Regions from separate parts of the Homo sapiens genome. Here region 1 is linked to region 2. Evidence: fine-mapped expression QTL. Tissue or cell type: whole blood. Region 2 holds a variant in brackets; the other region holds the start of a gene. All regions are shown on one strand. Distances are between the middles of the regions.

Region 1 (8,102 bases), 70 kb after region 2:
GTGCCCTTCTGCCAACATGGTTCCCACCCAGTGTCAGTCTCCTGGGCAGACAGATGTCACTCACATACCCACTGCCCTCCTGCTTGTTTCCAAGGGCTGGGATATTTAATAGCACAAACAAGCCATCACTTTCATCACTCACCACATAGTGAGACCCTGCTCTGGGCCTGGCACTCTGCTGGGTGCAAGAAACACAAAGACAAGGAGCCAATGGCTTCGTGGCCCCTATGCCAGGCAAAGAAGGGTCTCCTCAGCCACAGCAGGACATCAGGTAGGAGTGGCATTTCTAGAGGACACCTAATACCCAAATTTTCTGGGATGTCTATGGCAGTCACTTCCCCACTTAGCTCAGCAACCAGGCAGAGTTCGCAAATTGTACTCACTGCTTCGAAAGGTAATCCTAGGAGGTGTCACAAGCCCAGACTAGTTGTTACAGCTGTTAGATGGGAGGGGACAATAACAATCATATCGAATTAAACATTCGTATTGCATTTTGCTAGGCCCTGTTCTGAGTGCCTTATGTATATTAATCCATTTAATTCTCAGATTAACATGATGAAGTAGGTAATATCATTATCCTATTTTTTTTAAACAAAGAAGCAGAACACAGAGATGTCCAGGACTCACGTGGGGACTAAGTGGTAGTCAGGATTCAAACCCAGGGCTCTGGTTCCAGTCTGTACTCTTAACTACTGCATAGTATGATTTTTTTTAAAGTCCTATTTCTGACACTTGCTTTTCAAAATGAAGATAAAACAAAGCAACCTCACCATGGAATCAGACCTTCAACTTAAAGAAAGATGCTCAGCGAGTTTGGCCTGCTGTGTCTCCACCTGCCAGCCCTCATCTGCACATCAGAACATTTCTCAACTTTTGCCATCCAGCCATAGGTTCACAATTAGTTAAATATTAATCATGACAAACAGAGACTCCTTTCTGTAGCCCCTCGATTCCAGTTTTGCTTTCTCTCCAGTGTTCAGACATCGTTAGCATTAAACCAACTCTGTGGGGGACCATGAGCGCCCAGGAAAGTAAAAAGACCTCACCAAGTCACACACAAAGTCAGAGGTACTGCCCGGGGGCCTAGATCTTCCTGCCACTAGAAACGACGTATGACTTAATCAAAGGAGATCGACAATTCTGATGTGACGTAAGGATCAATTCATTTAGTCATGGAGTATCACACACAGGCACACGCAAATACACACAAACGCACCATTATCACCAAACCAAAAAAAAAAAAGAAAATCACAAAACTATGTGCAAAATCTTCAACAAGTGATACAGTCCCCCAAAGTCTAACTACAAACTAGAATGCCAACGAAGCAGATTTCCTGGGATTCCAGCTATGATAAAACCCATTTCAGTGAGGCTCCTGCCTCTCTCCCTGTGTGTAGGGTTGTTGGATGCAGTAAGGGAATCTTGAAAGTGCAAAAGCTGCCAACACATCCAAGGATAAGTTGCATTTGATTCTACTGTAGTCAAAGGCATTTACCAAGGGACAGCAGCCCCTCTACCCACAACATGTACCTCTACAAACCTTTACTCCTTCCTTCTTAATTAGCACCTGAACTGGGGGTTCTGGTGGAGGAAAGAGCAGCACCCACTTGCCCTTCCAATCTTTCCCTTCCACTTGACCCAGGCTTAGTGTCTGAGTTCTATTTCCCTGCAGCCAGCTGCAGCGGGCAGCACATTGAACAGCCTCCGCTGCAGACTGCAGGCAGAAAAAGGGTAGGGTTTTCCTGATGTGGAAATCACTGCTGCTGTCCAACGCTGCAGTTGGATGGGAGACGTGAGGCTGCTGCCATAGGGGAAGGGCCTTTGCTGAAAGATGCAAACCACAATCCATTTCCAGAGATGCTTGTTAGAGGCTGTGCCATTGTCTGTGCTTTGGGCTTCAGATATTTGAAATATCCATGTAAACACATGAACACATGGCTGTGGATATCCTCTGATAAACACGCAAGAGCAAATGCCGGGGTGGGGGTGGAGGGTGGACACCTATTAAAGGCATACACACCCCTAACTGTAGGAGGAGAAAAATAATAAACCCCCAAGGAGACTGAAGATTGGCTCAGAAAATCTATACACTGGGGGCCCAGTGTTTTCTGGCTTTGAGAAGCGCCTGGCTCAGGAGGTGACTGGAGGGGCCTGAGGGCTGTGGAGAGGAAGGGACCCTGTCAGGAGCTGAGTAATGTTAGAGCATGACGACTAGGGCAGGAACCCAGGAGGAGGAAGGGGAGGAGGCAGGGCACAGCCAAACATTGGAGCAGAGTCCAAAGGTTTGAGGGGCCAGAGGTGAAAGGCAGGAGGGGGCACGGGTTCAGGGTGACTTCAGGCTCTCTTCAGCCTCACAGCCTGCCTTTATCCAAAATCTAACAAGGTCTCCTCCCTGTCCCAATACGTCCCCCTGGAGGAGAGGTCTGAGCCTGTACCATGGGCGGACAAACAAGCGTTTTGTCAGTAACCCTAATAAGCAAGGGTCAAACGGTCATCTCAACAGCAGTCTCACAACCCACTCCCAAGAACTCACAACAAAACCATGAGGGTGCACAGGGAGATGACAGAGGCCGCCGAGGCCATCACCCACCCACCCCCCACAACCTGTGTGCGAGTGTGTGTGTGTGTGTGTGTGTGTGTGTGTGTGGAGGGCCAAGGCACGCACCTGTCAGGAGACAGGTATCTGTTAACTACCGCATAACCATACCTAGGTAGTGGGCAGGCACTAAAGGATACCGGGCAGGGAACTAAGGAGCGGACTGTCCCCAGGGGTTGTTATCTCCTTATGTTCGGGGCTCCCCTGGAGCCAAAGAGTGTAATGGCCCCTCTCTCCCTGCCCCAGGGCCCTCCCAGTCCTTCGCCCCCAGACTGCGGTCTCCCCGCACGCCCCTCCCCTGCCTTCACACTTACTAGTGCAGCGCAGCGCCTGCCGCAGCACCTCTCGTCCGCACAGGTCACACCAGCCGGGGCCGCCCGGCAGCACCAACTCGGCGAAGCAGTGCCCCTCGCCTCGCTCCGCCGGGACTCTGGGATCCTGCGGCTGCTCGAAGATGCTCCGCACGTCGCGGGGTCGGGGCGCTCCAGGCCGCCGCCGCAGTCTCTGCTGCAGACCAGGCCGGAGCGGGCGAGCGGGTCGGGAGGCCCGGGGCGGGGGCTCCAGGTTCCCCCGGGCAGCCCTCCGGGCGCTGCGCCCCTCGCGCGCCCCGGGCGCAGTGGAGAGGGGCGCCGGGACACAGAGGCGCGAGGACCGGTCGGGGGGCGGCGGCGGTAGCTCGGGGCCGCTCAGGCTCTGTAGATAGCGCGGCGGCTCGGGGTCCAATAGTAGCGGGTACGGGCGCTGCCCGATGGCCGGGGACGCCATGGCCATGCCCGGCTAGTGGCGGCAGCTTTGGCAGCGGCGGCTTTGGCGACTGCGCTACTCCCGAGCCAGCCCCGAGAGAAGGGGCCGCCCCACACCAGCGCGCCTTTAAAGGAACCGCAGCCTGCTGGGCGGGGCGGGGGCGGGGAGAGTCGGAGTGGCAGGAAGGACGACCCAAGAGAACCGCCGACGGACCGAAGGGGGTAGGGTCCGTGCCAGGCGACGTCTGCGCGAGTGTGGATTTGGGGGCGTCTTCACCTGGAGCAGCTGCAGGATTCCGCAGAGGAGCGCCTCTGTACAGTACAGCTCAGAGGGCGCATTTCTGCGGGGGGCCCTAGGCCTTCAGCCCTGCCTCTTTCCCTTGCCAATCACTTTCCCCAACACCAGGTTCACCCCCGACCCGCACCCTCACGCGCCCCGGGAGGGAGCAGGTCGGAGGGAAAAGCTTGGGAACTGGCTCGATGGGGTCTGAGTAGGGCCCCTCCGTCTAGGCGTCCGCTCGCCACTCTCCCGCTGATGGTGCCGACAGGAGGGCCGTGCTCCTTGGCCCTTCCTCTCTCCGGCTTGTCGCCGCCCGCCGCCCCCTCTAGAGCGGAGCTCGACGCGGGTCCGGAATGCCCCGCGCGCGCTCCCGCAGCCGCGCTTTGTCCCGTGGGTGACCGCCGGATGCCTCCAAGGGCTGGCAGAGCTGTCCGCGTGCGACTTTCGCTCTGGTTGGATTTCCCCTTCCTTCGCAGCCCTGCCGGGTAGGGTATTCCTCTTTCCTGGAAGACTGGTGGGGGGTGGAGGGGAGTTGGGGGGGCTCCATTGAGAGAACGCTCCCTCGCCCCAAGGGTTGGGGGAGCTTTTCTTCCTTAGCCAACCCTCCGTTCCCCAGAGCTGCTCTAGTAATTACTGTGGAGATACCAGTTCCCCTAAATGCCCTAAGTGGAACCTGGTATGGATGGTTCACTCATGGGACCCAAAGAGAGATCTCCTTTCTCCCGGCACTTTCCCCCGTGAAGGCTTGCTTCAAGCCTTCATGGACCCTTGTCTGGTTTAACGCTCTGCGGTCACCATCTTGAAAGTCTTACTTTTTGAACAAAGGGCCAGGCGTTTTCTTTTTGCACTGGTTCCCACAAATTATGTAGTTGTTCCTGACAGGCACCTTTGCCCATGGAAACAGGCCCATCTTATGGATAAGGAGGACTCCTGGATCTCTGAACCTGGGCCTGGGCCCTGGCCCTCTCTAGCCCCAGTATTGTTAACTGTACATTGGGCTGGAGGTGGGGAGACAGGTGGTTGTTAACGTGGCACTCTCCAGCTCCGTCATTATGACTCAGTGATCACAGCTTTCCTCTTAAAACACAGGTTCGGTTTGGTCCGTCTAGCGGTGGTCATTTTTTAGAAGAATAGTCTAAATTCTTCTGGACCTGGTCTCTCCCTTCTCTTCCCAGGCCAGAGATGGGTCTCCCCCTAGTGCTTCGTAGGGGAATCTTCACTTTTGCTTTTTGTTTTTCCCTTGGAGGTAATTTTTAGGTAATTCCTAAGATTTCCAGAGTCCAGTGGCCAGGGAATTCCCAGCCAGCTTTGCTCCATGGCTTCTCCCTCACGGTAATCATAGTCCTCTGCCTCCCAAATCTGTAGCAGAAGAGAGGTTCCTGGGGCTCTGGGGGCTCACCAGAGGCGGGAGCTCACCCTATGAGGTGGTTTCTGAGGAATGACCCATGGGACAGTCAACCCCACAGTGCTACCAAACAGAGGAGCTCCGATGAGGGGTGTAAGCCACAGGCCACCGCCTCTGCCCCACCCCTCCTCTACCTTTCCTCTTCCCTCTCCTAACCTTGCTTTTGCTACATCAGTGGTTTTCAAACCTTGGTATGCATCACAGTCATCTGGAGGGCTTGTTAAGATTATTGGGCTTCATCCCCAAAGTTTCAGAATCTATAGGTCTGGGGCTGGGGTTTGAGATGGCTCATTTTGAGCAAGTTCCCAGGTGTTGATGCTATTGATCCAGGGACCCAACTTGGAAAACCATTGCTCTAGGTCTGAGGTGGTGATTCTGAGAATGGGCTTCTCTGTTCCTTCTCCCCAGGACAAGTGTACTTCAGTGGACCTGACAGATAAAAGCCCAATGAGGGCTATTCCTGAATACTTTCTGCTGAAGGTGTAAAAGGGAAAATACAATTTGCCCTTGTGGTCTCTTATTTTAATCTCCCACTTTTTCTGCAAGCAGTTCTCTTGGGGTTGTTGCAGAAATCTGTATTCCATATAAATATTTGCTGTGTCCACACTCTGTTACCCATCTCCACACACTTGAGACTCATCCCCTTCCTGGAGTGCAGTGGGTGGGTGAGGTCCTGGGCATGGAAACAGCTTGAGCTCTGAGTGACAGCCTGGTGGGGCAAGAAGCAGCAGGGATCTGACAACAAGTGCATCCCTGGAAGATCGGCTTTGAAAAGCCATTTGTGAAATAATTGCTAACAGTCTCCATCTCTGTCCTTCCCTGCAGCCTCAAAGCATGGTTTGGGCAGCCCAGCCCAGATTTCCTGGATAGAGAGACTCATGAGGAGGAGCGTCATCTCTGGCCACGGGAAACTGAGGGCTATCTGAAACCATCAGGCATAAAACTCTTCCCCAGTTGTCTGGGCTGTACAGAAAAATGCTCTAGTTTTTGTTTTCCTCCTGCAGCTCTGATTTGGTGGAGTGGCAGTGGCTGCTCTTAGCATGAATGTGGGAGGAGATTGTGCAGGGCCAGAGCCCTATATTTGGCTTCTGGGGTGGGAAAAGAGATGAAAATGGAGATATTAATCATATAACTCCATGTAACCAATCAAAAAATTTATCATAAAGTTTATCTTAAAGTTCATCTCCTTGAGCCAAGAAATTAGAGTTGGGGCGGGCAGTTGCCCTTCTTAACCTCAATGTGAGGCTCCCTGGCTGGGGCATGTCTCCTCTGATGCCAGTTTTCCCAGCCCAGTCCCCTTCTTCCTTGAAATAGCATTTCCCCACCAACCCACGACACACACATAGACTTCTTTCTTGCTCCCATGCACACACACACACACACACACACACACACACACCCCACATGAACAGCAGAGTATTCCTTCTTCCCCAGGGAAGAAGTGCTAAAGAAACTCTAGTCTCATTATAAGCTCAGGACATTGCTGGGGTAGTGTCAGATGCCTGGACTTTAACATTTTTTTTGATCTGTCTGGTCATCCAGGCTACAAGGGTAAGACCGCAGCATCCGCTGAAACACCTCCACTGGGAGATCTTTCCCCTTGTTAGTAGATCCTCTTGGCTCAGACCCATTGACTTTTTTCTGTTTGTGACTCACTCCCAGCAGAGTGGGTGTGCTGCTTTTATTTTTGACCAAGGGGAAGGATTATGACAGTGAGTTTAGAGTGTGTGGTCAGGGTGTGAGATCACTTCAGAGGTGGTCCCAGAGCGTGCTGGTTTTCCCATTGGGTGAGTTGTTTAACTGCTGCCGCCCAGCCTCCCTCCCCAAGTTCCCTAGTAAGAAGGAAAACGGAAGGACAGAACATGGCCTGACTTCCTGAAGGGGACATTTTTGGTTTTGTTTGACTTTGAGGCGTCTGAAGTCGCCTGAAATCCCCGAAGCTTTCAGGGAACTCCCAGGGATTCTGACAGTTGCACAACTGTCTACATGGAATCACTGTAAGAGTCAGGACAAGTTAGGTTATGCTGTAGTAATAAGCTCCACAGCTGAGTGCCCTGAAATAACAGACTCCTTTCTCGCTCACATTACATGCCTTTTGCAGGTTGGCAGGTGCTCTCTTCTCATCAGACTCACCATGTCTAATATTGCCAGTCACTGTGCCAAAGGGAGATTGAGAGAGCCTGGAGGATCCCACATCAGCATTTAAAAGCTCCAGTCACTTTTGCTCACAGCTTATTGGCCAGAACTAGTCATATGACCCCACTCTACAAACAGGAGCAGATGTAAAATTCTACCTTGTGCTCAGAAGGGGAAAGGGCTGGAAATATTTGGCAATCAGCGCTAATGGCCAGTGCAATCTTCAAGGGCATAGAGCAGTTATTCATTCATTTAATGAGTAATTCTCTGATATCCACTATGTATCAAGCACTGTTCTAGGCACTAAAGGTACAACAGTGAAATGGATATGTTCATGAAGCTTGCATTTAGTGAAAGAGCCAGACAATAAACAGACACAAGAGTAATATGATATCAGGTTGTAAGCACTTTGATGAAAAATCAAGCACATTAAGGGGATGAAGGTGATAGAGGCTACTCTATTAGATTGAGTAGTCAGGAAAGACCTTTCTGAGGAGCAGACATTTAAGCAGATCTGAATGAAGCAAGCCCTTTGTCAATCTGGACAAGAGTGTCCCAGACTAAGAGAACAACAGGCACAACAGCCCCAAAAACTTTTCAAGCTTTATGAACCTGAGTTTGTTCAAAATGCCTATTCTGGGACCTGACCCTCTGATTCAGTATGTCTGGATTTTGGCCGGGATTTTGCAAGAGACTTTGATTCAGATGGCTCACAGACTACACTTTAAAAATGGGGTTACAGCAGTAAATAGTTAAAATGGTGTGACCCCCTCCACAGACATTTGGAAAAAAATGCCCTTATCTTGGTTAGCTATGAAACACAGGTCTCCAGTGCTGCTTCCTTTCCTTCTTGGGCAGCATGTTGCATGCAGAGCTCAGCTTTCCAAAGAAGTGAGTGCTGCTTGCAATGTGTGATGGGGGTCAGTAATATTTTACATTACT
Region 2 (8,102 bases):
ATTCTTATTTCACAGATAACAAAACTGAGGCTGAGTTTAAGAAACATGCCTGTGGTCCCCTGCTAGTAAGAAGCTAAGTAGGAACTGGAATCAAATCCATCTAAGGCCCATGCTCTTCTCAATTCACCATGTAGCCACCATGGGACGGCATCTTTTGCTGAAGGGGCCGGCCTGCCACACCCATAATGATCACTGAAACTCTGTGCTGCGGGGCTGGGATGAGCAGCTGTTAAACCAAAGCCTGTAAGTTACCTGATCTGTGAAATGTTCATCTAAGATGAGTCTAAGCAGCGGGTCAGGCCCCAGAGGCACCATGTCACCTGTGAAGGTGGGAAGGAAGGACTTCTAACTCAAGTGAGATGCAGCCACCAGGATGCAGGGCCCAGCCTTCTCCTGTGTGCCTTCCCAGGTCTCTGGAACTGAACCTTGATTCTGTTGCAGACCACCCAAGGGCAAGCAGCTCTGGCCATCTCCCACTTGCCGGAGGTGAGTAGCAAGTAGTGTGAGCCTCACAGACTCTCTTCATTCACTGTCAGTCCATTAACCCGGGGACTCTCACAGTGAAGCCTCTCATTTTCCTCATCCCTTCCCTTGGGTAGCTCCCAGAGCTCCCCATCCTCAGTCCTTGCCAGCTGAGCACATGTCTATGGGACCAGATGTGCCTGACCCTGGCCCTACCCCTATACCTTCCCGCTGGGAGCTTCTAATTAGAAAGACCCCGTTGTCTGGTTACTATTATACACTCACTCTGTCTCTGACGCATGTAGGCTATTGCTCCTCAGGAGGTAATAGCTTTCTCATACTTGTCTATAAAAAATAAGTAATGGAAAGAAAATTCTAGAAGCTTCGGAAAGATCTCCTCTCATAGTTTCCAATCAAGCTAGAGCCATTTCCCCGTAAGAAAAGGCAGCTGTGCTGTGGCTTTCAAAGGCTTGATTTTGAATACAGTGAGAAGCAAAGCTGCCTTAGCCTAGGGTTTCTTCTTCCTGTTCCCCTTTCTTCAGCAGATAGACCCATCTATCTCTCCCCTTCCCACCACAAACGCGGGGAAGTGACGCAAGTGGCCACAGGCACCTCTGCCTTCCAGGGCTGACTCAAAAGACAGCAGCCCTGACCTCACCATTCTGAGGCCTGGCCCTCTGGCTGGTGATGGGAAGCCCTGTCTGGGAGTGCCAGGAGCCCCGTGTGTAGCCAACACTACGAATGTCACAGCCATGGAATGCCAGCACCCAGGTCTGGGATGGCTGCTGCCCACAAAAATATCTGGCAGACAAGATGTGACCCATGGACCAAATGAATCACCTCCTGAATTAGGCCAGCCAGCCACAGCCACGAGGGCTCACGGATCCTTTTTCCACCCAAGAGATGGCGTATAATCCAGACCAGTGGTTCTTAAACTTGTCTGCACAGTGCAATCATCTGGGGGATCTTTAGAAACTTAGCTGCCTGGGCTTCATCCCTGGAGATTCTGATTTAATTGGTCTGGGGTGCAGTCTGGGCATGGGAATTTTAAAAATCTCCTAGTTGATTTTAATTCGCAGCAACATTCGAAAAGAACTGAAATAGACAGACCCCTCACAACAATTCCAGACCTCAAGGGTCTTCATCCAGCTGCTGAATTAACACTTGGTGCCAAGAAACACACAAACACCCCAAAGGTTTACCTAACAGGCACTATCTGCCATGAGAGCGAGATCGATACTATAGCAATCTTCAGAGGATAAGACAAAGACTCTGATTCCTATTCACCTGCCAGATTCTTAAGGATCTGTCCACGGGTACAAAGCGAGAAACCAAGCAGACAGTTTTGCCTCTTGGGGTGGCCCAAGATAGAGACAGAATAGGGAACTCTGTTATGATTTAACAAATATAGACATTGGCATGTGAGGTGTCTCTCCTGGGGGCTCACACATCTCAGTGCATCTGGCATGGAATTCATCTATTCCGATTAAGCCCCTGGCATTGGTGGCAGATGGCTGAGCTGTTCCCAATGCACTTGGCATGTCCAGGGCACTGGTGAAAAACAGGTTTGTGCTCACATGTCCTATGCGGTGGAAAAGGGCAATGTCTTCTTTTAGCTCTGGAGGTGATTGGGGAACAGCCATGTAAAGAGGCTGGGTGCTAGGGGTTCACAGCGACACCCCGACCCTGAGTGATTCTCTAATGCTTCCATTTAAATATTCTTAACAAAATAAGGAGGACCATACCCCTTTCGTCTGGGGCCTAACTCAGGGCAGATTTGCCCTAAGCTGTTTTTCTTTATTTTATCACTAAAGCAACAGCAACAAAACCCTACTTCTGCACTCTAATCAATGACATATGTAATCTTAATTTTGGTGACTGGAGAGTGACCTAATGCCCTAAGGAGAGGCTCTGAGTGAGTCACGTGGCTTCTGGTATTCCCAGGTGGGCCCAGGGCACCCAGGAATGCTGTGGCAATGAGAGGGGGTCCCCAGGATGAGGGTGGGCTGAGGAGGACGTGTGTCCCACCGGCAGTACTGCAGCTATTATATACATCCGTGCCTACTTTTTCTTGACCAAAATCACAAACCTAATTTTTGCTAAAAAATTCACTCTCACTCTTTTTAAATTTGTCAGTCTTTCCTCCTTCTGGCCCACGATTTGAATCATCTCACACCTGTTTGCCCATCAGAAGTCACTTTATTTGTCAAGCTCTTCCTGATCACTCCAGCCCTGAATGATGACGATGATTCACTACAGCTAATATGTACCGTGCACTATTCTACTCACTTAGCATGTATTAGCTCATTTCATCATCACAGCAAATGTGTCACAAAAAATACTATTATGATGCTCATTTTACAGTCAAGGAAAGTGAGCCACAGGAAGGTTAAAGCTAACCTACATCTAAAGGCAACACTATACTATCTGGCACTTAAGTAAGCATCTACTTACACACACACACACACACACACACACACACTTTTTTTTTTTGAGATGTCTCCCTCTGTCACCCAGTCGAGAGTGCACTGGTGCAATCACAACTCACTGCAGCCTCGACCTCCTAGGCTCAAGCAATCCTCCTGCCTCAGCCTCCCAT[GT/T]AGCTGGGACTACAAGCATGTGCCACACTCCTGGCTAATTTTTTTTATTTTTTTGTAGAAATGAGGTGCCTTGCTATGTTGCCCAGGCTGGTCTCAAACTCCTGGCCTCAAGCAATACTCTCACTTCAGCCTCACGAAGTGCCAGGATTACAGGTGTGACCCACCGCGCCTGGCTGCTTACATTAACCTCCAAGTAGACTCATCCATCTCAGGTCTTCTTCCCAACTAGACTAAAGCTCTTTAATGACTTACATCATACTTCAATTTGTTCTCTGTGCCTGGTGCCTCTGAGCATGAGGCAAATAGGAAATACTTGCTCAAGAACCTTCAATGATCCCCTATTGCCTACAGTGGACAAAAAAGGTCTTAATTTCTTCTAGGAATTACAGTGCAGTGAGCCTTGGATTTCCATTTAGACTGAGTTCTGTGAGAGAAGCACCCACGCCTGTCTTGTCCTCTATGGTGTCCCAGATCCCAGTGCCAGCTTGACACATAGTAGGGGTTAAGTACCTGCAGGATGAACACAAGTGTGTGTTGGGCTTCTGACTCCCATGACTAACTACATGATCTTGAGAAAGTCAGATAATCTCTAAGCCTCAGTTTCTTCATCTATACATTTGGGATAAAAATCCCTTATTGTCTCACAGGATTGATGTGAAGGTAAAAATCAAATGAGATAATGGGTACAAAAGTGTTCTGAAAATCACCAAACCCATTCAAAGGCATGTATGGTGACTATCATCCCAGGAAAGCAAAGTTCTACCCCTCTGAGCCAATTTCAGTTTTCATTTTCCTTGAGTCCTTCTTCTGATTGGCCACATGCCCATAGAGTTTGTTAATTCCTTTCTCTGCACCAGTGGTTGGCAAACTTTTTCTGTAAAGGGTCAGACAGTAAATGTTAGGTTTTGCAGGCCACGCAGTCTGTTGCCACTATTCAACTCTACTATTGTGGCACAAAAGCAGCTACTGGATGAGTGTGACTGGGTTCCAGTAAAACTATTTATGGGCCTGGCATGGTGGCTCACACCTACAATCCCAGCACTTTGAGAGGCCAAGGCAGGATGATCGCTTGAGCCCAGGAGTTCGAGACCAGTCTGGGCAACATAGTGAGACCCTGTCTCTACAAAAAAAAAAAAATACAAAAATTAGCTGGGCACAGTGAAGTGCACCTGTAGTGCCAGCTACTCAGGAGGCTGAGGTGGGAGAATGACCTGAGCCCCCAGGAGTTCAAGGCTGCAGTGAGCCGTGATTGTGCCACTGCACTCCAGCCTAGGTGACAGAGCAAGACCCTGTCTCAAAAACAAAACAAACTTTATTTATGGAACCTGGCCATGTGCAGTAGTTTGCTCTATGCTGTTGTTTGTGCAGAGTCTCCTGCCTAGAACACTATTAGCCCTAGTTCCACCTTCTCTATGTAGTTTCCCAATGCAATTTCTCCAGTCTATAGCCATCTCTCCATCCTCTGCTCTCTTAATGTACCAGATCCCTGGCATTTTGATTCCCACATGGAGAAAGGTAATCACAGTTTTGTCCTGGTCTCTCTTTCTCCTGAATCATACTTCCTATGTTTCCTGTGTATTTCCTCACACCACCAGTTAATGGGCCTTTGTAACTTCACTCTCATTTCATGGACACTTTTCACAAGAAGACAAAGGCTTGGGCACTTCCTTGGATTTTGCTCACTTTACTCCATTCTGCAATGAGGAGGCAACAAAGCTGGCTGGGGTAGGGATGGAGGTAGACAGCTAGGCTCACCCCCTGGTTCTGTGACTCGCTCCCAAACACCAGCCCCATGGCCTCAAAGCCTCAGATTCCCATTGCAGCAAAAGTACAAATTACCATCGTCACAGATCTCTGCAGCTGCTGGCTAATGTTAAATCCATACTGCAAGAGCCTATAGAGGTGATTTCAGAGCCTGTGTGGCTACAGCTGGCATCTAATTATATGCTGCCTTTTATTGTTTAATGATTGTTTCACATGTTAATCCCATCTCCCCAGTGAGATGCTCTCTGGATGGAGGCAGACATTAGTTTGGTGCCTAAGCTTTTTGGCACCCCGCTTGGCTGAAACCTGGGCCAAACTTTAAGTAGGTGTCAGATAAATACCTGTTGATTGGGTGGCAGGGGAGGGCAAGACAGCCTGGGGAGTCTCAGGCCAGAGCCCACCCCAGACCCCTAGGTCCAGGAGCACCTCACACTCAGCTGCACCCTGAGGGTCTGATACCAAGAACACACACCAGGCTTTGGACTTTGGCGTTAGCCGTGTGGCTCAGCTCTTGGCAGCTAGCTGATGAGAACAAATGCAAGACCATCAAATGACCTGTGACGTCTGGGGAGCTACTTCCCCTCTCAGGGCCTCAGTTTCCTTATCTGTGAAATCATGAAGTGATACTGGAGAAGCTCTAAGGGCCCCTTCGCAGGACTAAGATTTTACACATAAGATAGGGTGGTGTTTTTTTCTCATCATTGCTTCCTCTTCTATTTCAGAGAATTGGGTGTGGAGATGGGGGCCTCTTGGAGGCTAGCTAGCATGGCTGAATGGCAGCAGGAATAACCAATCTAAAGGAGCACAAAGAACATTTCTAACCGCCACGACTTTACTTTTTCACTGCTCACCACTTTTCTCTATTGTCAGCAAGACTCTATCTTAGCCAAGCCCAAGCCGGTCTACGCATTCTTAACACACACAACTCAAGAAAACAAAACAAAAAATACCCCGGAAGCCATTCACCATGAGCCTTTGCCACATTTCCTCTTTCTCAGCTCTTAGCAAATCTGTCAGCAGCAATTCTTTCACCCCTTGGAAGGAAGCCATCTCCAGGCTTAAGTCAGGGAGGAAAGCCTCAGGCCCCTCCTACAGGAGAATGTCCATCTGCAGCTGCCTTCCACACCCCAAACACCCGGTGCTTCTGTTGTGCTTGCCCTAGATGGGAACGTCTGCAGGCAAGGGGCAGACACCCATCTATCTGGGCTGGATTTGAAATACCCTGCTCAATGTCCAAACCGCATTCAAAGGTGAGGTTAGGAGTTCAAGACCAGCCTGGGCAACATAATGAAACCCTGTCTCTTCTAAAAAAAAAAACAAAAACAAAAACAAAAAAATTATCCGTGCGCCTGTAATCCCAACTACTCGGGAGGCTAAGGCGGAAGAATCGCTTGAACCTGGGAGGCAGAGGTTGCATTGAGCCAAGATTGCGCCACTGCACTCCAGCCTGGATGACAGAGCGAGACTCCATCTCAAAAAAAAAAAAAAAAAAAAAAAAGTCATTGGTCCCTTTGTGATGGTCTCAACCAAATGAGAAAGAGGAATCCCTATGGGGCCTTACTGCAGGGCCCCCTCCCAGGTCTTCGAAGGCCTGTGTTCTGAAATGGACTCCACAGACCCACCACAGCAGTGAAGGGGTTGATTTCCACAGGTCCCTCTATGGCACTGTCCATTGTCCCAAAATTAAAAGGGTTGGGAACTCCTTAACTGTGTTCCCTAATAGGTTATTTGCAGCAGAGCAGGGAAGGGGCTTTATCATGGAGCTTCTGCTCCATGTGGAATTTGAGCAGCTCTGGTAGGGTGTATTAACAGAGCAGAGGGAAAAAAGAGGTGGCGGGTGGAGGTTGAGAATGGAAAGAGACTCAAGTCTCCAAAGACAAAAACGTAGAGCAGATGGTCAATGTCAACAGTCCGCCAGTAGTAACTGAATGAACTGCCTATGGGTGAGGATCGTGAAAGGCACCTTGAGAGATGACGCAGATGGGATGTGACCCTGTCCTTGGGAGTCTGCAGGTGACCTGAGAAGGGAAGACAGAGATGGATGCGCTGTGGCACACCAGAGCAAGTACAGTGTGATCTGGGACAAAAAGCCTCAAGCAGCACAGATCAGGCCACTCCCGCAGACTCCTCAGGTTGCCAGCATGCCCCAGAGTCTGGACACGGGGTCCCCTGCTCTTTGAGGTGACCATCTCAGTCTCTGCACAGCTCAGCTAGAGTGGGTTATACCAGGGAACAGTAGCTCCCTTACAGGGACCTAAGTTCAAGCCCCTGCAGAGCCTCATTATAATATTAAAAACCGACAGTAGTCAGGCACTGCCCTGAAGGGTTCAAGGTCCTGATCTCATTTAATCCCCTAAATAACAAGAAAGATGCTGTTACTCTTCACCATTAGACCATGCTGCCTTGCACGCTGGGCCACAGGTGGCCTGTGCTGGCCATGCCCTTGGTCTTCTGTGAACTTGATCAAGTCCACCTCACTAAGACTCCGATTTCTATTTTGTTTTTTTAAGAGATGGGGCTCTCACTATATTGCCCAGGCTGGTCTCAAACTCCTGGCCTCAAGTGATCCTCCCGCTTTGGCCTCCCAAAATGCTGGGATTACAGGCGTGAGCCACTACGCCTGGCTACTTATATTAACTTCCAAGTAGACCATCCATCTCGGGTCTTCTTCCCAACTAGACTGAAGCTCTTTAATGACTTACATCCACTGCTACTACTTCTCTATGCCTGGTGGCTCTGAACATGAGGCAAATAGGAAATACTTGCTCAATACTTGCTTCAGTGGTTCTTGAGGTCTTAATTTCTCCTAGGAATTACAGTGCAGTAGTGAGCCTTGGATTTCCATTTATACTGAGTTCCGTGAGAGAAGCACCCGTGCCTGTCTTGCCCTCTATGGCGTCCCAGATCCCAGTGCCAGCTTGACACATAGCAGAGATTCAGTAAATACCTGCAGGATGAACATGAGTGTGTATTTGGCTTCTGACTCCTATTACTCACTACATGGTCTTGAGAAAGTCAGAAAATCTATATGCCTCAGTTTCTTCATCTATAAATTTGGGATAAAAATCCTTTATTGCCTCACGGGATTGATGTGAAGGTAAAAAATCAAGCAGTCCGCCCACCTCGGCCTCCAAAAGTGCTGGGATTACAGGCATGAGCCACCACACGGAGACTGATTTCTTTGTGAAATGCAGTTTATACATTTGTTGTGAAGATGAAATGAGATCTCAGGCCTCAAAGTGCTTAGCACAAAGTACACAGTAAGCACTCCATAAA

What was found. PIP is the estimated chance that this variant, and not a neighbour inherited with it, causes the effect.
Region 1: it holds the start of RASSF5, and the variant in region 2 is fine-mapped to the expression of RASSF5 in whole blood (TOPMed, PIP 0.92).

The regions. Positions count from the first base shown.
Region 1 is chr1:206,502,868-206,510,969 of GRCh38, reverse strand. RASSF5 (Ras association domain family member 5) reads right to left here and starts at 3,439. Exons shown (of 6, transcript NM_182663.4): 1 at 2,911-3,439. The coding sequence starts at 3,367. LOC124904493 (a long non-coding RNA gene) reads left to right here and starts at 3,563. Exons shown (of 2, transcript XR_007066830.1): 1 at 3,563-4,104; 2 at 5,850-7,551. RefSeq lists silencers at 3,034-3,123, 3,164-3,523, 3,774-3,823 and enhancers at 6,421-6,470, 6,501-6,550.
Region 2 is chr1:206,573,076-206,581,177 of GRCh38, reverse strand. All of the region lies in intron 2 of RASSF5 (Ras association domain family member 5), which reads right to left. It also overlaps a transcript of EIF2D not described here. Among named protein-coding and RNA genes, the nearest start is that of EIF2D, 35 kb to the left of the region's middle. RefSeq lists an enhancer at 5,271-5,320. The variant GT/T (reference allele first, on the strand shown) is at 3,062.